Linked DNA regions of Homo sapiens. The protein of the gene in region 3 purifies or fractionates together with the protein of the main gene of each other region. This does not show direct contact. Each region holds a gene or a part of one and is shown on either strand. Other genes may lie near its edges.

Region 1 (2,292 bases), on a different chromosome or scaffold from region 3:
TCTTAGTCTTAAATCATAGCAATTCTTGGCTTTATAAACTGTATTGATACGTTCTCCTATAAACTAGTCCCAATTTCCTTCATGGGCCTTCACTGAGTTACTTGTAGCATTCTAATGGAAGAAGAGAGTTTAAGAGATTTAAGAGACAGCAGTTTGGATTTTGCTGGAAGTAAGGATTTTGCTGCTTGAGCACTTGTCTTTTTGGAGTAATTCCATTTTCTTCCATCAAGTTACATAAACTGTATCTGGAAAAAAAAAGTGGGTATGTTAATTCATTGTATTGTAGGATGTCTTCTCATAAATAAAAATGCTTTGTGGTCTTTACCATTTAACTGGCCCAGAAGTGTTCACAACATGCTTATCACAAACCCTGTTTATAAAACAAAGTCAGTATTATCAACTTATGTGCCAGAAAGCTCAATATTTGACACATATAGGGACTTCCAAATAATGTTTTTTGTTGTTGTTTTTGAGACAGAGTCTTGCTCTGCTGTCTAGGCTGGATTGCAGTGGCATGATCAAAGCTCAATGGCTGGGCACCATAGCTCACACCTGTAATCCCAGCACTCTGGGAGGCTGAGGTGGGCAGATCACCTGAGGTGAGTTCGAGAGTTCGAGACTGGCCTGGCCAATATGGTGAAACCCCGTCTCTACTAAAAATACAAAAATTAGCCAGGCGTGGTGGCGGGCGCCTGTAATCCTAGCTACTCGGGAGGCTGAGGCAGGAGAATGGCTTGAACCCAGGAGGTGGAGGTTGCAGTGAGCTGAGATCGTGCCACTGCACTCCAGCCTGGGAGACAAGAGCGAAACTCCATCTCAAAAAAAAAAAAAAAAAAAAAAAGCTCATTGGAACTCCTGGGCTCAAGCAACCCTCCTGCCTCAGCCTCCTGAATAGCTAGGACTGCAGACAGTCGCCACCACACCTGGGTAATTTTTGGGTGGGGGTAGAGACTAGGGTCTCACCGTATTGCCCAGGCTGATCTTGAACTACTAGCCCCAAGTGATCCTCCCGCATCAGCCTCCCAGGGTGCTGGGATTACAGGCATAAGCAACCACATCCAGGCCAAATACTTAACTGCTAAAAATAGAGGAATAGCATGTGGAGGAGGAAAAGAAAGAAGATCAATGACCTATTTTTTCATGACAAGTTCAGAAAAATCTCTCCATAAGCACAAATACCACAAGCAAAATCTCATTTGGGAAGCAAAATTTGAAATATTATTTCCAAATGATATACAATTAGAGACAATAAAGGGAACAGTAATATTATACTAAGTCTTTTTATTAACATAAATAAGAACCTGAAAGAGCCATAAAAATATTTTTCAATAGGGTACTACTGTTCATTCAAAGATATTTCACTCACAATTTCCCTTAAACTGCCCATCCAAAGATTACTGAAGTAGATGTGCTAATAAACTTGCCAAATCAGAAGACTATAAACTCCCAAAGATCTAGAAGGTATATCTAAACTGGGGGCTAGAGCATCAAGAAGAACAAATTACACTGTCTTCCAGCAAACAGAGGCAGTGTGGATCATATGCAGAATCCTTCTAATCGAAAGGGCTTAAGTATTCACTTGCCCTTAATTAAAAAGCAAACTTTATCCGATCTCATCCATTTACTGTGAGCAGTGGATGAGATTACTTTAAATAATTATGTTACAGATATTTTCCAAAAGTTGTTTTTCCTTATGTCCTATCTTTTCATTCTGCACCTAAAGAATAGAGGAAGAGGAGGAGGAGGAGAGGGAGCCTAGAGTCCTTTAAAGAAATGAAAGAGAAGCGTGAATTGTGTTTAATGTTTGGTAATTGTTTTTAAGTATTTAAGTCCCCATCTCCCAAAACAAGTAGCAATACCTAAAGTGATTTATAAGAAATCCTCCAAAGAGAGCTCTGCAAAGGGGTCCTTTCCTGAAGCTCTGTGAGGACTGTGACTGGAGGGGCTGGATGCTGCCGACAGCTGGGGGAAAAGAAGACAGAGAGAGGGAAAGAAAAAAAGATCTCAGAATGACAGAACATGAAAGCAGAAAATGTATGAAAGAAGAAGTGGTTTTGGTTTTGTCATCTTTAATAAATATAAGGGCAGTCTTTGTAGAAAATGGATTGTTAAGACAAAAGTTTCAGTCATATGTCAAGTTAAAAGGTATGCAATGGCATGTGTTTTTCAGAAAACAAACTCGTGCTTCTGAAGTTTCAAAGGAATAATGTCTTTTACCCAAAAGGTCGATATAAGCTGACCCATGGTTAAGAATTTTAATGTGTGTATGGGGGGTGGTGGGGGGATAGGGGA
Region 2 (2,959 bases), on a different chromosome or scaffold from region 3:
TCACCTGAGGGCCCAGTGCTGTGGGGAACCCCAGGCTGCTGTCTTGGCTGCCCTAGGTGCTCGGCTGGCAATTCCTGGGCCACCCTGACCCACAGTGAGGTCAGTAGAGACAGCCTGGTGTCCTCACAGGACGCAGCTGCAAACATAAGTGAACCGGAAAGGCTGCTCACTCCTTGGCTACCCATGTGTCCCCACATCAGTTCCTGCATCTGGAAGCAGCCGCAGTGGCGACCACACAGTGACTTCCCCCAGGACGTGTCTCTGCCCCTCCCACCCTGCTCCTGCAGAGGGCCCTGGGTCAGGGGTTCTCAAGACCCCAGAGTCCCTAACCAGAAATCAGAGGGGAAGGTTCCTACTGTACCCGCCTCCCAACCAATGGGTTTTTCCTCCTTATTCTGAACAAAGCACGCCACGCACGCAATTCCACCTCTAAGGTGGCTTCTCCAATACCCACAGGCCATTCTCCAACTATGACAAAAGTTTGGTTTTAATATCGGGCAACACAAAACACAGTACATCACTTCAGACTAAATTTTATTAAATATGGTGTCATTTGGCTACAATCGGTTTGTCTTTATAAAACTAAGTAACTTATTTTGTAGTAAAAACAACCCCAACCCACTGCCCCTCTTTGGCAGCCCTTGAAACTCAGTTCAAAGCTAGGCCTGGCTCCCGGCCATGGCCCCTGCTGCCTTCACCTGCTGAGCGCTCTAGGAAGCCTCCCAAATCCCAAGTGTCAGGCCCCCGGAGTCCATCACCTCTGCCTCAAACAGCCAAGCCCAGGGGCTTTGGGGCCGCAGGTATGAAGGCCCCTCCAGTAGCCACACCTGTGTCAGGGCTGTGCCCTGGGGCCTGGCCAACATCCCCCCTCCCCTTGAACCATCAGGAACTGGGCAAGACGCCCACCAGAGGCTTGACCACAGGGGGCGTGCATCCCCTTCTGAGCCTGGGAGACCCTAGGGGAGTGGGTAGCCTGGGCTGGACCCCTGGTGGGCTTGTGTTCTGGATGTCGCTATGGCACTTTGGTCCTCAACTCAAACCCCCACCCCTACCCAGGAGTCTGAGACCTCGGCCTTCCCTGGACTTGTTGGGCAGAAAAAGGCACCAAGGACAGGATGAGAAACCCGGAGGGGCAGCCCCACAAATGAGGGCGCTCTGACCTGTCCTCCCATTGCCACCCCACCCAGGAACAGCCCCTCAACTGGTCACAGCCACCAGGAAGCCCCAGGACTGCTCCCACACCACAGCAGTGCCCTCTTCTCCATCCCACCCTCAGGACCTACCCAGGGTCCTCCAGGCAGCCAGGGGCCAGCTCCAGGACAGGGCAGGAGAATGCGGTCCAGGTCTGGCACGTAACTGAGGGTGGGTATGCTCCAGAGAAGTAAGGCAAATGGCCCAGATGACGACCACCTGGGGTAGACCCAGGGTCTCCAGGGAATGGCTCGGGGGCAGACGCTGTGTCTGTGTGTGCAGGATCTGCCCCCACCAGCAGGAAAGGGGCAGGAGGGAGGCAAAGAGGAGGTGCCCAGGACTTGTACCCTGGCTGCCAAGCAGGGTGGGGTGTTTTCATGAGGATTGCTTTTAACCAAAAGTCCTCAGCCTTCTGCAGACCCAGGGCAGAGGCGAGTTGCTCTACATCATGTGCTTTAAGTAGAGCCCTTTGCCAGCCAGGAGGCCCAGCCACCCCCTTCCCTGCCCTGTGGCTTTGGGGGGAGACACAGAGTCACCTCAAGGCCCCAGCCCACTCAGCGCACGGTGCACACATCCAGGATGCAGAAGCGTGCGCGGCAGGTGGGGCAGGGCACGCGGCTGGCCAGCCAGGTGTCAGGGCGCAGGGGGTCCTGGCGGCTGGCGAACCACTTGCCCATGCAGGTGAGGCACCACATGGGGCGGCAGTAACACTGCTGGCACTCGCCTGTGGCTGCCTCCTGGCAGGTCTTCACCAGCTTCACGCTGGCACGTGTCTGCATGCAGCCTATGCAGGCCTCCAGCTCCTGCGGGCAGGTGGAGCGTCACCAGGAGCCCAGGCAGACACCCGTGGGCACCCACCCATCCACCCGGCCCTGGCCCAGGCCCCCCACCTGGCTGCTGGGCACTGAGTAGGCCGGGTTGACCTCTACCAGGGAGGCAAATGTCTCCAGGAACAGGTCGCCCAGGCTCTGGTGGATGACCACATGGGCTGCCCTGCGGATGGGTGCCCGGAGCTTCTCGCAGAGCTCCCCGTACTCAGTGGAGTTCAGCCTGCAGGGAGGAGAGCTGCTGGGCCCCTCTGCAGGGCAAAGGGAGCGGAAGATGGAGGCTACACCCCAAGGAGTGACAGGGCAGCTGTCGCACCAGGACCAACCAGGAGAGATGGCCCTAAGGCCAGAGCCCACGGACCCAGTGCCAGACAGCCCAGCCTGGGCACGGGACGGACCTAGGAGCAAGGCAGCTGTCCAGCCTGAGGGCTGCACTGTCCTGAGTGCTCCCCAAGAATCTGGGGGAGGTGGCTCCAGGGAGTGGAAGGGGAGGCCAAGAGTGCAGGGGGACCCGAGGGAGGGCTATGCGGGAGGGCTCAGTGACTGGTGTCTTGTGGACACCTTGCCTGGTGTCACACAAGCCCAGGAGTGTTGGAGTCCACACCAGCTACACCCAGCACCTCCCAGGGGTCGTGGCACCAGAGCCTGGCTCTGGCCTGCCATGTGCCCTCCGCAGCCCCACAGGCACCACACTCTTACCAGATGTCAAAGGCCTGCACAGCAGGGTTGGTGCTGGCCACACGGATGGTGAGGAGCTGCACGGGCAAGTTCGAGTCTGGCGAGAGCTCATGCTGCCGAGACTCCGTCACAGTCAGGTGCACGTCCTGCTGCTGGGCCACGTGCACTCGGTAGGTGGTTACCTTCATCACCCACGTGTCTGTCACAATCACACGGGCACCTGGTGCACCGGTGGCAAACTTGTCAATCCGCCGGAACTCAGT
Region 3 (3,587 bases):
CCACGAGCCAAGCCCATCGATGCACCATTCCAACTGACAGCTCCCGAGAACATATTTATTACCTAGGCCGTGAAGGCATCTGGTTTTTAGACTACCTAGGGTGTAATTAAGATGAAAACAGATTGATGGAGCATGCACCCAGGAGGAGCAGGCATGATTTAAAACCAGCTTTCTCAGGTCTTCTACCCCAAGCAGCCTCCCCACTTCTTTCCTCTTCTTTTATAAAGGAAGTTAAGTTTTTGCCTTAGTGCAGTTTTTCAGAAGTACTTGTTTGTGGGAGAGCATTCTGCTCTGTGATGCCCAGGCTCCTTGACCCTGTGGAAGTGAGGCATGGGGAGTCCTTGAGAGCAGGTGCCCAGAGAGGTGTGTCAAGCTCCATGCCCAGCCCTGGGCCACAGGCGCTGGCCTCAGCCAAGGTTCTTAAACCTTGGGATGGGATGGCTGGGCAGGCAGGAAAAGGCACCAGCCAGTGTTACTGGGGTTTCTTTGTGGGTTCTGGGGGCATCATCTGGCTGATAGACGATGGGTAGGGTAGGGAAATGGCTTCAGTGTAAGATGGGAGCTGATGCCCTTCCTTGGGACATCTGGGATGGGCTGTGTGGACTTTGGTTCTGTTCCCCTCCAAGGGCCAGTTACAAGGCCAGCAAGAGCCCCCGTCAGTCCCACTAGCTCACTCACTAGCACGTGTTCTGGGGGTGCCGCCTTCTTCATTTCTAGGCCTTCCCAAGGGACGCGCCTGAGCAGGCCAGGCTTTTGTCTCTGCAGGAGGTCAGCACCTCCCCTGTCTTCAGCTGGGACCCAGCACTGTGTGTACCAACACTATGTGTACCAGCCCCGTGCTGGGCACCCAGGAGGCGAGTACTCCGATCATCTTCATCCTGAGGAAGAGTAAAGTGAGGCCCAGGATCCCTAACTGACGAGGCCATGTAGCCGACACGTGGCACCGCGGCCCGAGTCTTCATGACCCACCCCGCCGCTTGCCCATGAAGGGCCAGCTCAGGCCAGAGATGCTGCTGGTGGCTCAGCTGTCCTTCCACAGCGGCTGGCGCTGGCACAGCAAATCCTGGGCCAGCTAGCTCAACAACTCACTGCCTTTGCTGATGCAGAAAACAGACCAGAACCACACTCATTCTTTAGAAATAGTCCCAAAGGAACCAGAATAGTTCCCCTAAATCTGGAAGAGGTGTGACCTCTGCTGCTGCTGTTGTGTTGCAGAGAAAAGCAGCATCAACTCAACTCGGTGCTGCTTTGGGGAGGGGTGTCTGTCACGAAGAATAAAAGTGGTATTTCTATTGATTCTTGCACATTTACCACTGTCCCTGTAGCATCTATTGATTATATCTTAGGTGCAAAGTGCCCTCTGTTGTCATTAAGGCCTGTCTGAGCCAGTGAAGGACTGAAGGACTTAGCTGGCCTTTGGGTATCAGCTCTGAGGGAGAGAGAAGAGCTGAACCCTGTGTTCCTCAAGGGCCTTACATTCACCCCTGCCTGGAAAAGCCCACAGCTCCGTGGAGTGGCTCCCAGCATTCAGAAGGGGCTTAGTGAGCTGCTGAAGGGTGCTTTGTGTCTTGAAAGCTGGCTGATTGCTCATTTGCCCTCCGAATCCAATGACACGAATCTCTCTTGAGCAAAGTCAGCTCCTGGGGCGGCCTCCTGGCCCTTCCGTTCCTTTCCTGTCACCTGGCCAAGGGGCCAAACCAGCCTTTCGTTCCTCCATAGCAGAGGGAGAGAACCTGTGTGACTCTGAAGGGAAGCTGTGCCACGAGGGGAGTCCCAGTGCCCTTTTTGTCCGACGTCGAGGCCGGTGCACAGGCCGGAGGCTGCCCGGATATGGTGTAGTTTGTCTCCAGGATGGCGGAGTTTCCAAGTGTTCGTTTAGAGATGACACTAATAGATAACGGTTCCCTTTGATGGAGAGCTTGTAGAACATTCTCAGAATTGCTAGGAGTCGTTAATTTGGGCTCTGGGAGATGCTCTGGGCTGGCTGGGAGTCGGCCACACCATTTTCAGCCTCATTTATCATGGGTTTGTGTTTTTCTTCATTAGATCACAACAACTTTCCCCAAGGATCCAGTTTACACTTTTTCTATTTCGCAAAATCCATTTCCTATTGAAAACCGGGATGTATTGGGTGAGACACAGGTGAGCTCTTTGTCTTTAGAAACATAATTTAAGGTAACTGCTGATTGTTATCTAGTGTCAGTATTGTTTTTCCAGAAAACATCAAGCTTTCAAATGCTCCCGATTCATTCTTGTGACAGGCCAGCTAGGGCCTACTGTGGGGCACTGCTGGTCACGTGGACGCCCTTCCCATGGCTAGGTGATGGACGGCCACAAAGGCTAATCCCCTGACGTCCTGACTGGCCACATCTTCAGTGGACCTCGTAATTTTCCCAAATGTGTTGCTTTGTGTCTTCTGCCAGCAGCCTCGTCACTGTTGGTTTGGCCTGGCCCCTGCCTGGTCACCTGCTGCCCTTCTTAGGCACCTTGGGGCTGTGTGGCCCCTCTCGGCCTGGCCTCGGCTTTCCCGTGTGTAGTGTTGATCTGCTGCTTAGCGTGGCTCCCGTGTTGGCCTCTGCTCTCACTGGCAGATCAGGCCAGGTCCGATTTGCTGTCACGCCTGCATACTGTGTAGACAGGCTGTGTACACATGGTTGTTCTTAAATCATAACTTGCTAACAGACATTTCAGAAGGTGGTCAAAGAATGTCTATAATGAGGTTTTCTTCAGTGGCTGACAAAGCTTCTTCTATGCTTTGATCCCCTCAGTGCCCATCCGCCCAGGGGACTTGGGGTGCTCACAGAGGTGCAAAGCCAGTTATTGGGGTGCACTCTTGAAGCTCTGTGTTTGGTTCTGCTGAAGATGTCCGTGCTGCATCACGGCTGCCCTGCACATTCCTCCCTCTTGCTGCCCTAGATGGAGAATACAGCTCGACAGGAAAAGTCAGACCTGTCTCCCTGCCGTGAAGGGGGCCCCAGGCCCCTCCCGCAGCCCACTCTCCACCGGGGGACCAGGGCGCATTTCCATGTTTGTGTCTCTGTCTGAGTCAGCCTTTTTTTTTTTTTTTTTTTTTTTTTGGAAGACAGAGTCTCACTCTATCACCCAGGCTGGAGTGCAGTGGTGCGATCTTGGCTCACTACAACCTCCACCTCCTGGGTTCAAGCGATTCTTCTGCTTCAGCCTCCTGAGTAGCTGGGATTATAGGTGCGCGCCACCAAGCCTGGGTAATTTTTTTTGTATTTTTAGTAGAGACGGGGTTTCGCCATGTTGGCCAGACTGGTCTCGAACTCCTGACCACCTGCCTGCCTCGGCCTCCTAAAAAGTGCTGGAATTACTGTGTTAGCCTCCACACCTGGCCAGTCTGAGTCAGCTTTATAAGCATGTCTCCTTGCACATCTGGGTAGTCAGGTGTGCTGAGAGCATCTTCTTGGGAGAAGAGAGCAAGAGCTTGCTTTGCAGCTGCCTGCTCCTCTTTCTTGGACCCTGTTCGTGGTTGCAGAGGCAGAGGGAGAGGTGTCTCAGCATTCAGTGTATTGAGTTGCGTCTTAGTAGGAAACAGCTCTGTTTCGGGGTCTGGCACTGGGGAA
Region 4 (3,587 bases), on a different chromosome or scaffold from region 3:
ATAGTGAGCCCTGCCCCCCCAACCAATCCCCATCTCTACCCACCCCCCAAAAAATAAAATCAGCTTGGCATGGTGGGGCGCTCCTGTAGTTCTAACTATTTGGGAGACTGAAGAGGGATGATCACTTGAGCCCAGGTCAAAGCTGCTGTGAGCTGATGGTGCCACTGCGCTCTGGATGGGACAACAGAGAAAGGCCCTGTCACCACCACCACCACCACCACAACAACAAAGGACCTGCCACAGTGCCACTGTGTTACCATTGAATAGTTGTGACAATAACAATGATACATACCCACCACCCTTCCATGATTTGTACTGTACAACTGCACAAGGTTTATTCCTCAAATGAGGATTTTGCCGCTGCTCCACTTGAACAAAAAAACAGTCCATGTCCACGAGAGCAACCACTCGATCCTGTCCAGTAGCCATTTTTCTGTAACACAACATTTTATGGACAGTTAGAAAAACACCTAATCCAAAATGCCAGGGAAAACTGTAATTCCATTCTTTCACTGATGAGTTACCATGAGCATGGGAGCATGGAAACTAACAAGAATGAAATAGGCATTTAAATATACAGGTTGAGTATCCCTTATCTGAAATGGCTGGGATCCAAAGTGCTTGAGATTTTGCATTTTTTTCAAATTTTGCAATATTTGCATTATAATCACCAGTTAAGCATCCGTAATCCAAAAATCCTAAACCTACAATGCTCTAATAAACATTTCCTTTGAATGCTGTGTTGGTGCAAAAAATTTTTTGGATTTTGGAAGATTTCAAATTTCAGATTAGGGATACCCTGAGTGGAAAAAACAGTTTTTAAGATTCTTTCACTCGATCTTGAGAGGAGGTCGCGGCGCCGGAGGCCCTAGAAGGCTCGAAGGCGCCGCGGGCTGGGGTCGGTGGCTTAGGGAGCCCGTCCGGCCATGGTGGCCGCGGGTGGTGGTTGGCGCGGCTGCGCTGCGGCCCGGGGCAGTGCGGAGCCGGGACAGTCGCGGCGCTGACGCCCGCGGGCCCCAGCTGCAGATATGAAGCGGAGCCGCTGCCGCGACCGACCGCAGCCGCCGCCGCCCGACCGCCGGGAGGATGGAGTTCAGCGGGCAGCAGAGCTGTCTCAGTCTTTGCCGCCGCGCCGGCGAGCGCCGCCCGGGAGGCAGCGGCTGGAGGAGCGGACGGGCCCCGCGGGCCCGAGGGCAAGGAGCAGCCGCCTGCCTTGGCCTCCCAAAGTGCCGAGATTGCAGCCTCTGCCCGGCCGCCACCCCGTCTGGGAAGTGAGGAGTGTCTCTGCCTGGCCGCCCATCGTCTGGGATGTGAGGAGCCCCTCTGCCTGGCTGCCCAGTCTGGAAAGTGAGGAGCGTCTCCGCCCGGCCGCCATCCCATCTAGGAAGTGAGGAGCGCCTCTTCCCAGCCGCCATCACATCTAGGAAGTGAGGAGCGTCTCTGCCCGCCCGCCCATCGTCTGAGATGTGGGGAGCGCCTCTGCCCCGCCGCCCCATCTGGGATGTGAGGAGCGCCTCTGCCCTGCCGAGACCCCGTCTGGGAGGTGAGGAGCGTCTCTGCCCGGCTGCCCCGTCTGAGAAGTGAGGAGACCCTCTGCCTGGCAACCACCCCGTCTGAGAAGTGAGGAGCCCCTCCGCCCGGCAGCTGCCCCGTCTGAGAAGTGAGGAGCCTCTCCGCCCGGCAGCCACCCCATCTGGGAAGTGAGGAGCGTCTCCGCCCGGCAGCCACCCCGTCCGGGAGGGAGGTGGGGGGGGGTCAGCCCCCCGCCCGGCCAGCCGCCCCATCCGGGAGGGAGGTGGGGGGGTCAGCCCCCCGCCTGGCCAGCCGTGCCGTCCGGGAGGGAGGTGGGGGGGTCAGCCCTCCGCCCGGCCAGCCGCCCCGTCTGGGAGGTGAGGGGCGCCTCTGCCCGGCCGCCCCTACTGGGAAGTGAGGAGCCCCTCTGCCCGGCCAGCCGCCCAGTCCGGGAGGGAGGTGGGGGGGTCGGCCCCCCGCCCGGCCAGCCGCCCCGTCCGGGAGGGAGGTGGGGGTGTCGGCCCCCCGCCCGGCCAGCCGCCCAGTCCGGGAGGGAGGTGGGGGGGTCAGCCCCCCTGCCCGGCCAGCCGCCCCGTCCGGGAGGTGAGGGGCGCCTCTGCCCGGCCGCCCCTACTGGGAAGTGAGGAGCCCCTCTGCCCGGCCAGCCGCCCCGTCCGGGAGGGAGGTTGGGGGGTCAGCCCCCCGCCCGGCCAGCCGCCCCGTCCGGGAGGTGAGGGGCGCCTCTGCCCGGCCGCCCCTACTGGGAAGTGAGGAGCCCCTCTGCCCGGCCACCACCCCGTCTGGGAGGTGTGCCCAACAGCTCATTGAGAACGGGCCATGATGACAATGGCGGCTTTGTGGAATAGAAAGGCGGGAAAGGTGGGGAAAAGATTGAGAAATCGGATGGTTGCCGTGTCTGTGTAGAAAGAAGTAGACATGGGAGACTTTTCATTTTGTTCTGCACTAAGAAAAATTCCTCTGCCTTGGGATCCTGTTGATCTGTGACCTTACCCCCAACCCTGTGCTCTCTGAAACATGTGCTGTGTCCACTCAGGGTTAAATGGATTAAGGGCGGTGTAAGATGTGCTTTGTTAAACAGATGCTTGAAGGCAGCATGCTCGTTAAGAGTCATCACCAATCCCTGATCTCAAGTAATCAGGGACACAAACACTGCGGAAGGCCGCAGGGTCCTCTGCCTAGGAAAACCAGAGACCTTTGTTCACTTGTTTATCTGCTGACCTTCCCTCCACTATTGTCCCATGACCCTGCCAAATCCCCCTCTGTGAGAAACACCCAAGAATTATCAATAAAAAAATAAATTTAAAAAAAAAAAAAAAAGATTCTTTCACTCAACAACAATCAATAAGGTAGACTTCTGTGACCAAATGTGTGAGGATTTCTCCCCACCAACAAACAAGCAATCAATTCTGCAGCAGACACCAAGTGGGTATCCTCCAATTCGAGTCTGACATTATCTACCTGGAGAAAGCGTCAGATCTCACAGGTTGATGGCTCAGTCCCACAAGACTGCCCCCTACTTCTGATGCCAATCACAAGCCACAGGTTGTTTTACCTGTGCTTCTAACTGACTGGATATAAATTGGGAATCTCATGAGCCCCTCTTTGGGTTCAGTTAATTTGCCAGAGTGGCTCACAGAACTCAGGTAATCAAATTTACTAGTTTATTATAAAGGATATACAGATGAAGAGATACACATGGCAAGGCATGCCCTCCCTGGGAACACCACTCTCCAGGAACTTCCTTTTGCTCCTATCCAGCAGCTCTTCGAACCCTCTCCTCTTGGGCCTTTTATGGAAACTTCATTGGATAGGCATGACTGACATCCGTGTAGAAATGTGACTGGACAAAAAAGATATGATCTAATACTAATAGACTGGGGAAACCCAGCAAGGCCTGTCCAGATTCTTCCTGGCCTCTCTGGGTAGCATTCCTTTCTCCAGGGTATGGGGTAGGAACTCTTCTGAAATGAAAGTCTTATGACCCATAATCAGAAAGGCAGGGGAAGATTAGAGTCCTGCTTTGGGCAGGTGAAAGGAGGGCAGAAGGCCAGAGA
Region 5 (3,587 bases), on a different chromosome or scaffold from region 3:
GATGGCTTATGGGTTATCTATGTGTATACGTACAACTGCATAGTTACAGAATATCTTTATCCATGGTTCTAATAGCAGATTAACTCACTTTCTGGGTAAATTAAGGCAAGACTTAAATGCCTCCATTTCGTCTGTAGAGCAGGGATGGTAGCATGATACTTATACAGCCACACGTATGATTACATATGTAATATATTTTGTGAATTTTAGAGCATCTAAATAGCCACTATAAGCACAGTATTGAATTATTAAAGCATTTTGGAAGGAATAATTCTGTTACAGGAGGGCTTTGAAAAGATACTAATTCAGATGGAAGATGAATACATACCTTTTTTTGCACATTTTGGAATTTTGTTGACAGTTTGGTAACCCGTTTTGGCCTCTGGTTTAGAGAAACATATTGTGCACTAGTCTCAGTTCTTGCATACATCACATACATCTGTTTCCTTTACTTTCTTTTCTTTTTAGTTGTTGATATAAGACCCTCAGTAATTACCTGAGTTTTTGATGCTTTTTTGGATGGGTTGTTTTTTTGTTTTTTTTTTTTTTTAATTTTGAACCATTCCATCTTCTCTGTCTTTCTCTATCTTTTTATCCTTTTTCGCCTTTCTTCCCCCACCACCTGGGAGCCATGAGGCAAGGGAGGAAGGTGGTTGCCTTCTTTTGCCCTCTGAATTTGAACCTTCTGAAGAAGTAGACCTCCCCTGGAGGAAAGAATCCTGAAAATAGCAGTGCGCTTTCACTAAATTTCTATGCTGTGAAAAGTGCAGAACTGTATTTATGAAAAAAAAAATATATATATATATATATATATGTGTAAATGTTCTAATTTTAACACTTGGCTAACAAGCAATGTGACCTCCTATGTCAAGAGGAGACATTTACCCAAAGGATCATTTCTCCTTCCCCTCCCTCCCATGAGTAGCCATGAAGAGTCTGTGTTTGGGTTTCTAGGGGCTGCAGTCTGTCTGAGGATGGGGGCATGCTGGCCCAGTGTCAAGGCCTGTCAAAAGAAGTGACCGAGCTCAGTCAGGAAGAGAAGAAATTAGATGAACTGATCCAAAGCTGCACCCTGGACCTCAAACTGTTAACCGAGGATTCAGAGAATCAAAGATATCCTTTGTGCCGCCAGTTCTCTGGGGGTTAGTGCTTCCTAGACTATTTCCAGAGTTGACAATCTGACTTATGCACAAGGTAGATTATTATTCTGATGTCATGCAAATGAGTACCTGTGTGCCTGTGTGTGTATGTGTGTGTGTGTGCACGTGTGTGTGTAAACCCAGTTAGCTTTGCCTAAAAAGTCAGTATTTATGGTAAGATAGTCACCAACTCGATCCTATTATTATCTATTTTGATACCAGGTGGGAACTGTTTTTTAAAGCATTTTTTCATGTGTGGTTGAGACATGGGTATACTCGTAGCGTAAGGCCACACTATTAAAAGATACATAAGGTGTCGGTATTAATATTAATGACAACACTAAGCAGATTCGTCTTTGGCTTCCCAGATTTTTGGTGGGTGTTAGCTGTCACTGTTGGGGTTCTCACATTCTATTTTCTTCTCACCAGATATCGTAGCAATTGAAATTGGTTGAATCTATCTGATTGGGCTATAGTTGAAGGGTTTGAAAGAGTAGAGAAAAATCATACTATAACTCTTAAAGTGCATTCTGCTGATTCCCAATGAAAAAACTGATTTCAAAAGCACCCCAAGACCTGAGAAACCCCTCTCAATTCCTCTGTTCCACTACAAACATTAGTCCTCGCAAATAAAAATACAAAAGGTCAGTTCTTGTTCTCAACTTCCTGACAATCTATTGACGATCTCAGGAAAACTTGCTCTTCATCATCTCACTACAGACAAAGTAAGAGAGAGATTGCCTCATTATGTCAAACAAGACTTGCCAATATTCTCAGTTATTAGAAGACAAAAAACAGTACTGTAAGTTATCCCATCTCTAGTTTTAGTTCCAAACTTCTGATGATTGCACATTTACCATTATTTGACAAAAACTAAAAAGTGTTCTGCCCAGATTCTTCTAGTGTCTCATCTTTAACAGGCTCCCCCTTGGAGAATATGGAGATATTTATTTTCTTCCAATGTTGGCAGTTTTTCAAACCTGCAATTGTTCATTTCCTGTTGACCAAAGAATTAACCTTGTCAGCCGATAATTAGTGAGATGGAAGAGAGGCGTAGTGATTTGGACCCCCAGTGGTTGGCAGAGTGGGTTTACAGGGGAAGAAACCAACAGTTGGGCTGTTTCATTCATTGTTTGGTTGGGAGCCCCATTGTGGAAGAGATGGGTGGTTACATGTGATTGGCAGCCTTCCGGGACATGTGGCTTATGGCATTGTCACCTATATTAGCTCTCTCTGGGGCCTTTGTTGCAGAAAATGAAAGCTTCCTTGCAGGGAACTTCGAACCCAAGGAGTAAATTCAGGAGGGAGCCACAAAGGAAGCACTTTTAAGTTTGTAAGATTAGAAAATACATTTGCACAATTTATTTCAGTTCACCATTCAGTTCCCAAATTGGTACAGCTTGTTCACAAATGTGTTGAAATTTTCCTTCCTGCAGCATGTTGAGTAATCGTAGATGAGTTTTTCTTTTACACTTGATCTTAGCCAAAAGGCCAAGAAGTGATGAGTTTTTATTTTAATAAGTTCTTGTCATACAGCTTTTTGACAGTGAGCTGTAGTGTAAGTACCTGGTTGTCAGTTTTTTCCAGTGTTCTCAGTAAAAAATCAGAACTGCCTGGCCCTCTATAAAGGCATCCGTTGACTTCTTTGATGGGTTATGTAGTGACCTAAAACCCAGAATCCTGCAAGAGCAGCCACTACAAGCTCAACACTGAATTAGCCATCATCTCAACTGTAAAGATTTGAAGGAGATAGTCTGTGATAGATCCCCTACATGTGTATGCAGATTTCGTGTGAATGTGCTTTCTTTCTGGAGTAGTAGTTCCATAGCTGCATTCAGTTTCTAATAAGAAGCTACTACAGCCAGGCACGGTGGCTCATGCCTGTAATCCCAGCTACTCGGGAGGCTGAGGCAGGAGAATCACTTGAACCTGGGAGACAGAGGTGGCAGTGAGCTGAAATCGTGCCACTGCACTCCAGCCTTAGTGACAGAGTGGGAGTCCGTCTCAAAAAAAAAAAAAAAAAGAAGCTACTATCGTAAGGGACATGATTTATTCTAGGGTCTCTAAGCCCCCCCTTTTTTTTATATTAAACATATTAGATCACGGACTCTATTAGCCATTAAATACGTTATACTACCTGCTGAAATGCCTTCATTGGTTTGTTACTTGCTGTTTTATCCTAGGAATTTTTTGTGGGTACATATAAAAAATAATAACGGGCTAAAGACATTGTACATTAATTGAATACTTTTGTCATATCGTAAGTACCATATTCTTTCATGATAGCCTTTTAGGCTTGGCTGTCAGGACATTTAAAAGAATGGTTCAGTGCTTAGAAAAAATGACCAAGGCCGGGCGCCGTGGCTCACACCTGTAATCCCAGCACTTTGGGAGGCCGGAGGCAGGCAGATCACTTGAGTCCAGGAGTTCAAGACCAGCCTGGGCAAC
Region 6 (3,587 bases), on a different chromosome or scaffold from region 3:
GAGCAGATATCCTCCTTTTCCTAAACTCTATTCTGTAATATGTTCAAGCATTTCTGCAAACTCTACTCTGTAATGCACTCAAGTGTCTCACCAGTCAAGTTGTATTCCTGACAAGAGGCAGTTATATTTGCTCCCAAACTAGTGTGTGCTGGTTATGTTTGTCACATGTGTTTAATTAAACACTACATAAACCTGTAAAATACCAGTGCAAAAAGAGTTTTCATCGATACGAAAACTAAATTAAAAGCTTTAAACAGGCTCTGTCTGGGGAAATTGCTAAAAAAAAAAATTGTTGTTTAGTTAGGTGTGGGCAAGTTAACTGTAAATGACTTAGGGAGAAATCATTGAGATACAACATTGTACACTTACTGCTTGGCAAGTGTTTAAGGTTGCACTACACTTAAGGAAATCAAATCAGTATGGGTTATGCTAAAAAGATCCCAGCCTGGGCAACATGGTGAAACCTCATCTCTACTAAAACTACAACAAAAAAATTAGCTGGTCGTAGTGGCGCATGCCTGTGGGCCTGTGATCCCAGCTACTTGGGAGACTGAGGTGGGAGCATCACCTTAGCCTAGGAGGTGAAGGCTGCAGTGGGCTGTGATTGCACCACTGCACTCCAGCCTGGGTGACAGAGTGAGACCCTGTCTCAAAAAAAAAAGTAAAAAATAGCCAGGCACAGTGGTGCACGCCTGTAATCCCAGCACTTTGGGAGGCTGAGGTGGGCAGATCACCTGAGGCCAGGAGTTTGAGACCAGCCTGGCCAACATGGTGAAACCCCATCTCTACTAAAATACAAAAATTAGCCAGATTTGGTGGCGGGTGCCTGTAATCCTAGCTACTCAGGAGGCTGAGGCAGGAGAATTGCTTGAACCTGGGAGGCAGAGGTTGCAGTGAGCCAAGGTCGCACTAGTGCACTCCAGCCTGGGTGACAGAGTGAGACTCCCTCTCAAAAAACTAAAAATAAAAACTAAAGAAGTTCCAAGGAGTGCTAGTGGATTCATTCCCTAAAGAAAACGATAGGCTTTTATCAGAAACTTATGTTCATGTGAGTACTTTATGTTAAAATGAAATATTTACATAAATATTCATTTATGTAAAAATGAAAACATGTAAAATGTTAAAATGAATATTTTTATTACTTTGACTTCAGTTAATTGATTAGTTATGGGTCTCATTCTCATTGGGTAAGAGAACTTCTGTCTTTGTCTTATAGAGATATGATTATATTATACTTAACTCTGCATAGCATAGGTAAGTAGTCATGAAGACTGACTGGGTTTGTTTGATTGAGACAGAGTTTTGCTCTTGTTGCCCAGGCTGCAGTGCAGTGGTGTGATCTCAGCTCACTGCAACCTCCACCTCCTGGGTTCAAGCAATTCTCCTGCCTCAGCCTCCCGAGTAGCTGGGATTACAGGTGTGTGCCACCACACCCGGCTAATTTTTGTATTTTTAGTAGAGATGGGGTTTTGCCATGCTGGCCAGGCTGGTCTTGAATTCCTGACCTGAGGTGATCCGCCTACCTCGGCCTCTCAAAGTGCTGGGATTACAGGCGTGAGCCACCGTGCCCGGCCCAAAATATATTTTTAAAACTTAAAATGAACAACTCAATCAAAAGGTAGGGAAAAGATCAGAACAGACAACTCACCAAAAAAGATATACAGATGGCATGTAAGCATATGAAAAGATGCTCAAATCTTTAAGGATTTGAGGTCCTTAAGGAATTGCAAATTAAAACAGCAATGAAACAGGAACTCTCCTGAGCTCAAGCAGTCCACCCCTTGGCCTCCCAAAGTGCTGGAATTACGGGTGTGAGCCACTGCACCCAGCCTCAACTGGAATTTCTGTTCCACTGGTCTTCCCCTATATATGCCAATATAACACTTAATTATAGAGGCTTATGATATATTTTGATCTGGAGGAACACCCCTGCCTCCACTCTGTTGCTCTTTTTCAGAGTTTTCCTGTTTATTTGCTCCTCTAAAAGAAATTTGAAATCAACTTTTTAAAGTTGAAATTTTATGAAATTTGTAAATGAACTTCAGGGGTTGTAGTTGACATCTTTATGTTGCTGAATCTGTTCAAGAACATAGTTATATCTTGGAAAGGTTTTGACATACTTACTCAGTAGTGTTTGCTGGCCTCCCTTTTTTGGGGTACTTCTTTATTTGACAAGTACAGACACTTATTATCAAGTTGGTTCAAAATGCGTTATTTTTTCAGAGTGGGCTGGGCATCGATATTTATGAACTCCTCTAAGTATTTAAGAGGAATATTTCTGAACCTTGCAAAGTAGTATACATTCTGATTACTCTGAGTAACAGATTACCTTTACAGCAGATAGTCTTTTAGAAGTAGGTCTTTGAGATGGGTATTGATAAAGATTAGTATTTTTTGTTTTGTTTTTTTGAGACGGAGTTTCGCTGTTGTCCCCAGGCTGGAGTGCAATGGCTCAACCTTGGCTCACTACAACCTTTGTCTCCCAGGTTCAAGTGATTCTTCTGCCTCAGCTTCCAGAGTTGCTGGGATTATAGGCGCCCACCACCACTTCTGGCTTATTTTTTTGTATTTTTAGTAGAGACAAGGTTTCACCATGTTGGGCAGGCTGGTCTCGAACTCTTGACCTCAGGTGATCCACCTGCCACAGCCTCCCAAAGTGCTGTGATTACAGGCGTGAGCCACTGTGCCCGGCCATAAACGTTAATTTTGTCATTTTTATTTTGGACCATCTGAGGATTATTTCACATATTCAAGGATTCTAGTTGTCGTTTCTCCAACATTGTATTTTTGCTTAAAATTAGTATCAAAAATGAAATAGTCATAAAACTGATTATTTGATTTGAACTGTTTTCAGGGGTGTGTGTGTGTGTGTGTGTGTTTAATACTACTGTTAGTGAGAGTGCCAGAAGTGATGAATAGCAGAAATCACCGTGAACACTTGGGGGGCCTGTGTGTGGGCCTTGGACTTTTCCACCAAGGAAATTATGAAAACTTTCTCACAGTCCTGGAATAAATTTGAAAGAGAACAATTTTTCATACTAAATACTGGGGAATATTTTTAAATGTGTGTTTGTAAATTCTTATTGGAGTTAAAGTCACAAAAAGTCACAGTCCTTAGTTAACCCTCTTGTCATATGCATTGCCACTGCCTCAGTTTATACTTCATTTCTCCTCTGGACTAAACTTGTATAACTGGTAGCCCACATTTAAAGTCTTCTCAATTCAGCCTTCCTACTTTTTCCAGAATAATATTTCTATTCTCTTTCTCTTCTCTTTTCACTCCTCTTCTCCCTTCTCTTCTCTTCCTTGACAGAGTATCTGTCGCCCAGGCTGGAGTGCAATTGTACAGTCTTGGCTCACTGCAGCCTCCGCCTGCTGGACTCAAGCCATCTTTCCAGCTCCCCTTCTTGCGTAGCTGGGACCACAGGCACGTGCCACCACGCCCAGCTAATTTTTGTATTTTTAGTAGAGATGGGGTTTCGCCATGTTGGCCAGGCTGGTATTGAACTCCTGGCCTTAAGTGATCCACCTGCCTTGGCCTTACAAAGTACTGGGATTACAGGCATGAGCCACCACGTCTGGCCTCA
Region 7 (3,587 bases), on a different chromosome or scaffold from region 3:
TGTGTCTGCCAATAATCAAAATTCATGAGCAAACAATCGTTTCTGGCTGTAATGTATGTTCTTTTTGAAATTCTGTATGCTAAAATCAGTTGTTTCAAAATTTCAAGAATTCCACTGAGTAGTGATTTTTCTGAGTACTAAGCTATGATCTCATCAGAATGTGCTGGTTTCAGTCTGGAGATAGATTTCTGAGGAGCCTAATACAAGGGAGAGAATGTCCAAAGAACACTACTGTGGAAAGTTCTTACGATGGAAATTGACATCTTTTGTATCTCATTCTCCAGCCGTGAAATAAAGGCAGAGGTTCCCTGCAAACTAGTTTGGTTGGGATAAATCCAATATTTATATATAATGAAAAATAAAAGTTTGCATTATTAGTTTATCACAAGACCCATGTGACAACTCAGAAAATATTCTCAGCATAATTTTTTTAAGAGATAGAGTCTCACTGTTACCCAGGCTGGAGTGCAGTGGTGCAGTCATAACTTACTACAGCCTCAAACTGCGGGGCTCAAATGATCCTCCTGCCTCAGCGTCCCAAGTAGTTGAGATTACAAGCCCAACCTTCCATAACTGAAAACTAACTTTCTTTTTTTCTTTTTTTATTATTATACTTTAAGTTCTAGTGTACATGTGCCCAACGTGCAGATTTGTTACATAGGTATACATGTGCCATGTTGGTTTGCTGCACCCGTTAACTCGTCATTTACATTAGGTATTTCTCCTAATGCTATCCCTCCCCCAGCCCTGAAAATGAATTTTTTAAACACAAATAAAAAATATTTCAGTGTTTTGAGAATTTTAATAATTTGCTTAATATAGTACAGGAAGGCAACACTATCTAGAGGGCCAGGCATAGTGGCTCTTGACTGTAATCACAACATTTTGGGAGGCTGAGGCAGGAGGATCACTTGAGCTGAGGAGTTCAAGACCAGCCTTGGCAACATTGTGAGACCCTATCTCTGCAAAAAATAAAATTAACCAGGCATGGTGGTGCATGCCTGTAGTCCCAGCTGCTCAGGAGGCTGAGGCCAGAGGATCACTTGAGCCCATGAGGTCAAGCCTGCAGTGAGTTGTGATCAAGGTGCGCTGCACTCCAGCCTGGGTAATAGAGCAAGACCCTGTCTTCAAAAAACCACTCTAGATTTCATGTTGTAGGGGGTAGGGAGGACAATTTTTAACAGCTTTAACTGACATGGGTAATATATAAGTTCTGTGTTCTCACTTTATATGAAAGTACTTTTTTAAATGTTAAAAATACTAGAGCTGTATTAACTTCGTGATTTTATTTTTCTTCTTAGCACTAACTTCAAAATAACCATACAGTACTGCTTGTAATTTTTGTATTTTTAGTAGAGACAGGGTTTCACCATATTGGCCAGGCTGGTCTTGAACTCCTGAACTCAAGTGATCTGCCTGCCTCAGCCTCTGAAAGTGCTGGGATTACAGGCATGAGCCACGGTACCCGGCCTAAATTTTAATTTTATATATAAATGGCAAAATAATCTTAAATATAGTAAATCTGTTCACCTATCTGCTATGCTAGCAAATTCTGGGTTGTCAAAAATCCATGTTCATACTGTCAGTGTTAGATTTTTACTCATAATTTAAAATTTCCCCGCAAAATTTCACAGAAAACTGAATTATTCATCTCTATCTTCTGTCCAATTTATGTAATGAATGTATGTCAAAGCATTTATATAACACAGTCCATTTTGCCCAGTAATTCACTTTAATGATGTTATCATGAAGTATTGATGTACTTTTTTTTTAGTGTATTGAAGTATTCCTAGGTTGCATTTGTGCTAGTTTCATACCATTTGTGTTCCTTATATATTGAAGATGGTTCAGTAGGGGAAATGGATAGGCTTTATTTAGTTGGCTTTCTTATACTGGATAATATAAACACTTTTTTTTTCTTTTTTGAGACAGGGTCTGGCTTTGTCACCCAGGCTTGGAGGGCACTGGTGCCATCACGGCTTACTGCAACCTCCACCTCCTGGGCTTATGCAATCCTCCCACCACAGCCTCCCCAAATAGCTGGGACTACAGGTGCGCACCGCCACACCTGGCTAATTTTTGTATATTTTATAGGCAAAAAAAAAAAAAAAAATGGTTTCACCATGTTGCCCAGGCTGGTCTTGAAATTCTCAGTTCAAGCAGTCCACCCACCTCGGCCTCCCAAAGTGCTGATATTACAGACATGAGCCACCCCACCCAGTCAGCACACATTTTTTTTTTTTTTAAATAAGACAGGGTGTTGCTGTTGCCCAGGCTGGAGCGCAGTGGCATGATCATAGCTCACTGCAGCATCAAACTCCAGGGCTTAAGCGATCCTCCCACCTCAGCCTCCTGAGTAGCTGGGACTATAGGTGCATGCCACCATGCCTGGCTAATTTTTTAAATTGTTTGTAGAGATGGGGGTCTCTCTATGTTGCCCAGACTGGTCTTAAACTCCTGGGCTCAAATGACTCTCCCGCTTCAGCCTCCCAAAGTACTGGGATTATAGGTGTGAGCCAGCACACATAGCCCTTTTTTTAAAAAAATTAAAAACAAATTTTTTCTCCAGAAAAAAACATATTTATCAACTTTTAAAAACATTTTATGGGTACATAGTAGGTGTATATATTTATGTGGGACATATTTCTTTTGATAGAGTAAATTGAGTATTCATCACATCAAGCATTCATTTGTGTTACGAACATTCCAATTGTACTCTCTCAGTTATTCTAAAATGTGATATACACACTTTTAAAAGGATTTATTGCGCTGGGCGCGGTGGCTCACGCCTGTAATCCCAGCACTCTGGGAGGCTGAGGCCGGTGGATCATGAGGTCAGATCGAGACCATCCTGGCCAACATGGTGAAACCCTGTCTCTACTAAAAATACAAAAATTAGCTGGGCATGGTGGCGCGCGCCTGTAGTCTCAGCTGCTTGGGGAGGCTGAGGCAGGAGAATCACTTGAACCCGGGAGGCAGAGGTTGCAGTGAGCCGAGATCACGCCATTGCACTCCAGCCTGGCAACAAAGCGGGACTCTGTCTCAAAAATAAAATAAAATAAAATTTTAAAAAAAGGATTTATTGCATATAATTCTTATATCCCCTGTGGAATAGTTTGGAGAAATGGTACATCCAAAGATAAAATCAGTTAGAAATAAACAGTGGCCTTCCTCAGAAAAGCTGGGCTATAGTGTTTTGGGTATCTTAAACCAAGAAAGGGTATTTCTATCCCAGCTGTAGAGTTTTTAATAATTCTATTATAAATAATGGAATCAGGCCAGCACAGTGGCTCACGTCACATAATCCCACTCTCCTTAAGAGCTTTTTTTGTCACTGCATATCAACTCAGTTGACAAGGACTGGCCCCCAAAAGAAGCTGCATACTCACTTGGCAGTCACTCCCCATTCTCCCTAGCTCCTGGCAACAACTTAACCTGTCTCTGTGGATTTGCCTATTCTGGACATTTCATATAAATTGAATCATAATTTATGTAGTCTTTTGTGACTGGCTTCTTTTACTTAGGATGTTTTTAAGGTTCTTACTGTTGTAGGATGTATCAGGAGTTTGTTTTTATGATGAATGTTC

What was found.
Region 1: the proteins of NPLOC4 (region 3) and PICALM fractionate together in Homo sapiens (co-fractionation; one large-scale study listed by BioGRID). This does not show direct contact.
Region 2: the proteins of NPLOC4 (region 3) and TMEM129 purify together in Homo sapiens (co-immunoprecipitation; one large-scale study listed by IntAct). This does not show direct contact.
Region 4: the proteins of NPLOC4 (region 3) and POLH purify together in Homo sapiens (affinity purification with western blotting, with the first as the bait; one study listed by BioGRID). This does not show direct contact.
Region 5: the proteins of NPLOC4 (region 3) and E2F3 purify together in Homo sapiens (pull-down; one large-scale study listed by IntAct). This does not show direct contact.
Region 6: the proteins of NPLOC4 (region 3) and FAF2 purify together in Homo sapiens (affinity purification with mass spectrometry; 3 studies listed by BioGRID and IntAct, with this or other methods). This does not show direct contact.
Region 7: the proteins of NPLOC4 (region 3) and PDE12 fractionate together in Homo sapiens (co-fractionation; one large-scale study listed by BioGRID). This does not show direct contact.

Annotation. Positions count from the first base shown.
Region 1 is NC_000011.10:85,958,816-85,961,107, forward strand, and holds part of PICALM (phosphatidylinositol-binding clathrin assembly protein), read right to left. Parts: intron 1,963-2,292; coding exon of another isoform or gene 1,870-1,962; exon of another isoform or gene 1,860-1,869; intron 246-1,859; coding exon 231-245; 3' UTR 1-230. UniProt on the Homo sapiens protein: Cytoplasmic adapter protein that plays a critical role in clathrin-mediated endocytosis which is important in processes such as internalization of cell receptors, synaptic transmission or removal of apoptotic cells.
Region 2 is NC_000004.12:1,715,435-1,718,393, forward strand, and holds the end of TMEM129 (E3 ubiquitin-protein ligase TM129), read right to left. Parts: coding exon 2,718-2,959; intron 2,242-2,717; coding exon 2,082-2,241; intron 1,995-2,081; coding exon 1,746-1,994; 3' UTR 518-1,745; downstream 1-517.
Region 3 is NC_000017.11:81,567,571-81,571,157, reverse strand, and holds part of NPLOC4 (nuclear protein localization protein 4 homolog), read left to right. Parts: intron 1-2,046; coding exon 2,047-2,142; intron 2,143-3,587. UniProt on the Homo sapiens protein: The ternary complex containing UFD1, VCP and NPLOC4 binds ubiquitinated proteins and is necessary for the export of misfolded proteins from the ER to the cytoplasm, where they are degraded by the proteasome.
Region 4 is NC_000006.12:43,579,162-43,582,748, reverse strand, and holds part of POLH (DNA polymerase eta), read right to left. Parts: intron 434-3,587; 5' UTR 430-433; coding exon 293-429; intron 1-292. UniProt on the Homo sapiens protein: DNA polymerase specifically involved in the DNA repair by translesion synthesis (TLS). Due to low processivity on both damaged and normal DNA, cooperates with the heterotetrameric (REV3L, REV7, POLD2 and POLD3) POLZ complex for complete bypass of DNA lesions.
Region 5 is NC_000006.12:20,481,808-20,485,394, forward strand, and holds part of E2F3 (transcription factor E2F3), read left to right. Parts: intron 1-954; coding exon 955-1,113; coding exon of another isoform or gene 1,114-1,142; intron 1,143-3,587.
Region 6 is NC_000005.10:176,454,798-176,458,384, forward strand, and holds part of FAF2 (FAS-associated factor 2), read left to right. Parts: exon of another isoform or gene 1-200; intron 201-3,587. UniProt on the Homo sapiens protein: Plays an important role in endoplasmic reticulum-associated degradation (ERAD) that mediates ubiquitin-dependent degradation of misfolded endoplasmic reticulum proteins.
Region 7 is NC_000003.12:57,562,758-57,566,344, forward strand, and holds part of PDE12 (2',5'-phosphodiesterase 12 isoform 1 precursor), read left to right. Parts: 3' UTR 1-3,587. UniProt on the Homo sapiens protein: Enzyme that cleaves 2',5'-phosphodiester bond linking adenosines of the 5'-triphosphorylated oligoadenylates, triphosphorylated oligoadenylates referred as 2-5A modulates the 2-5A system. Degrades triphosphorylated 2-5A to produce AMP and ATP.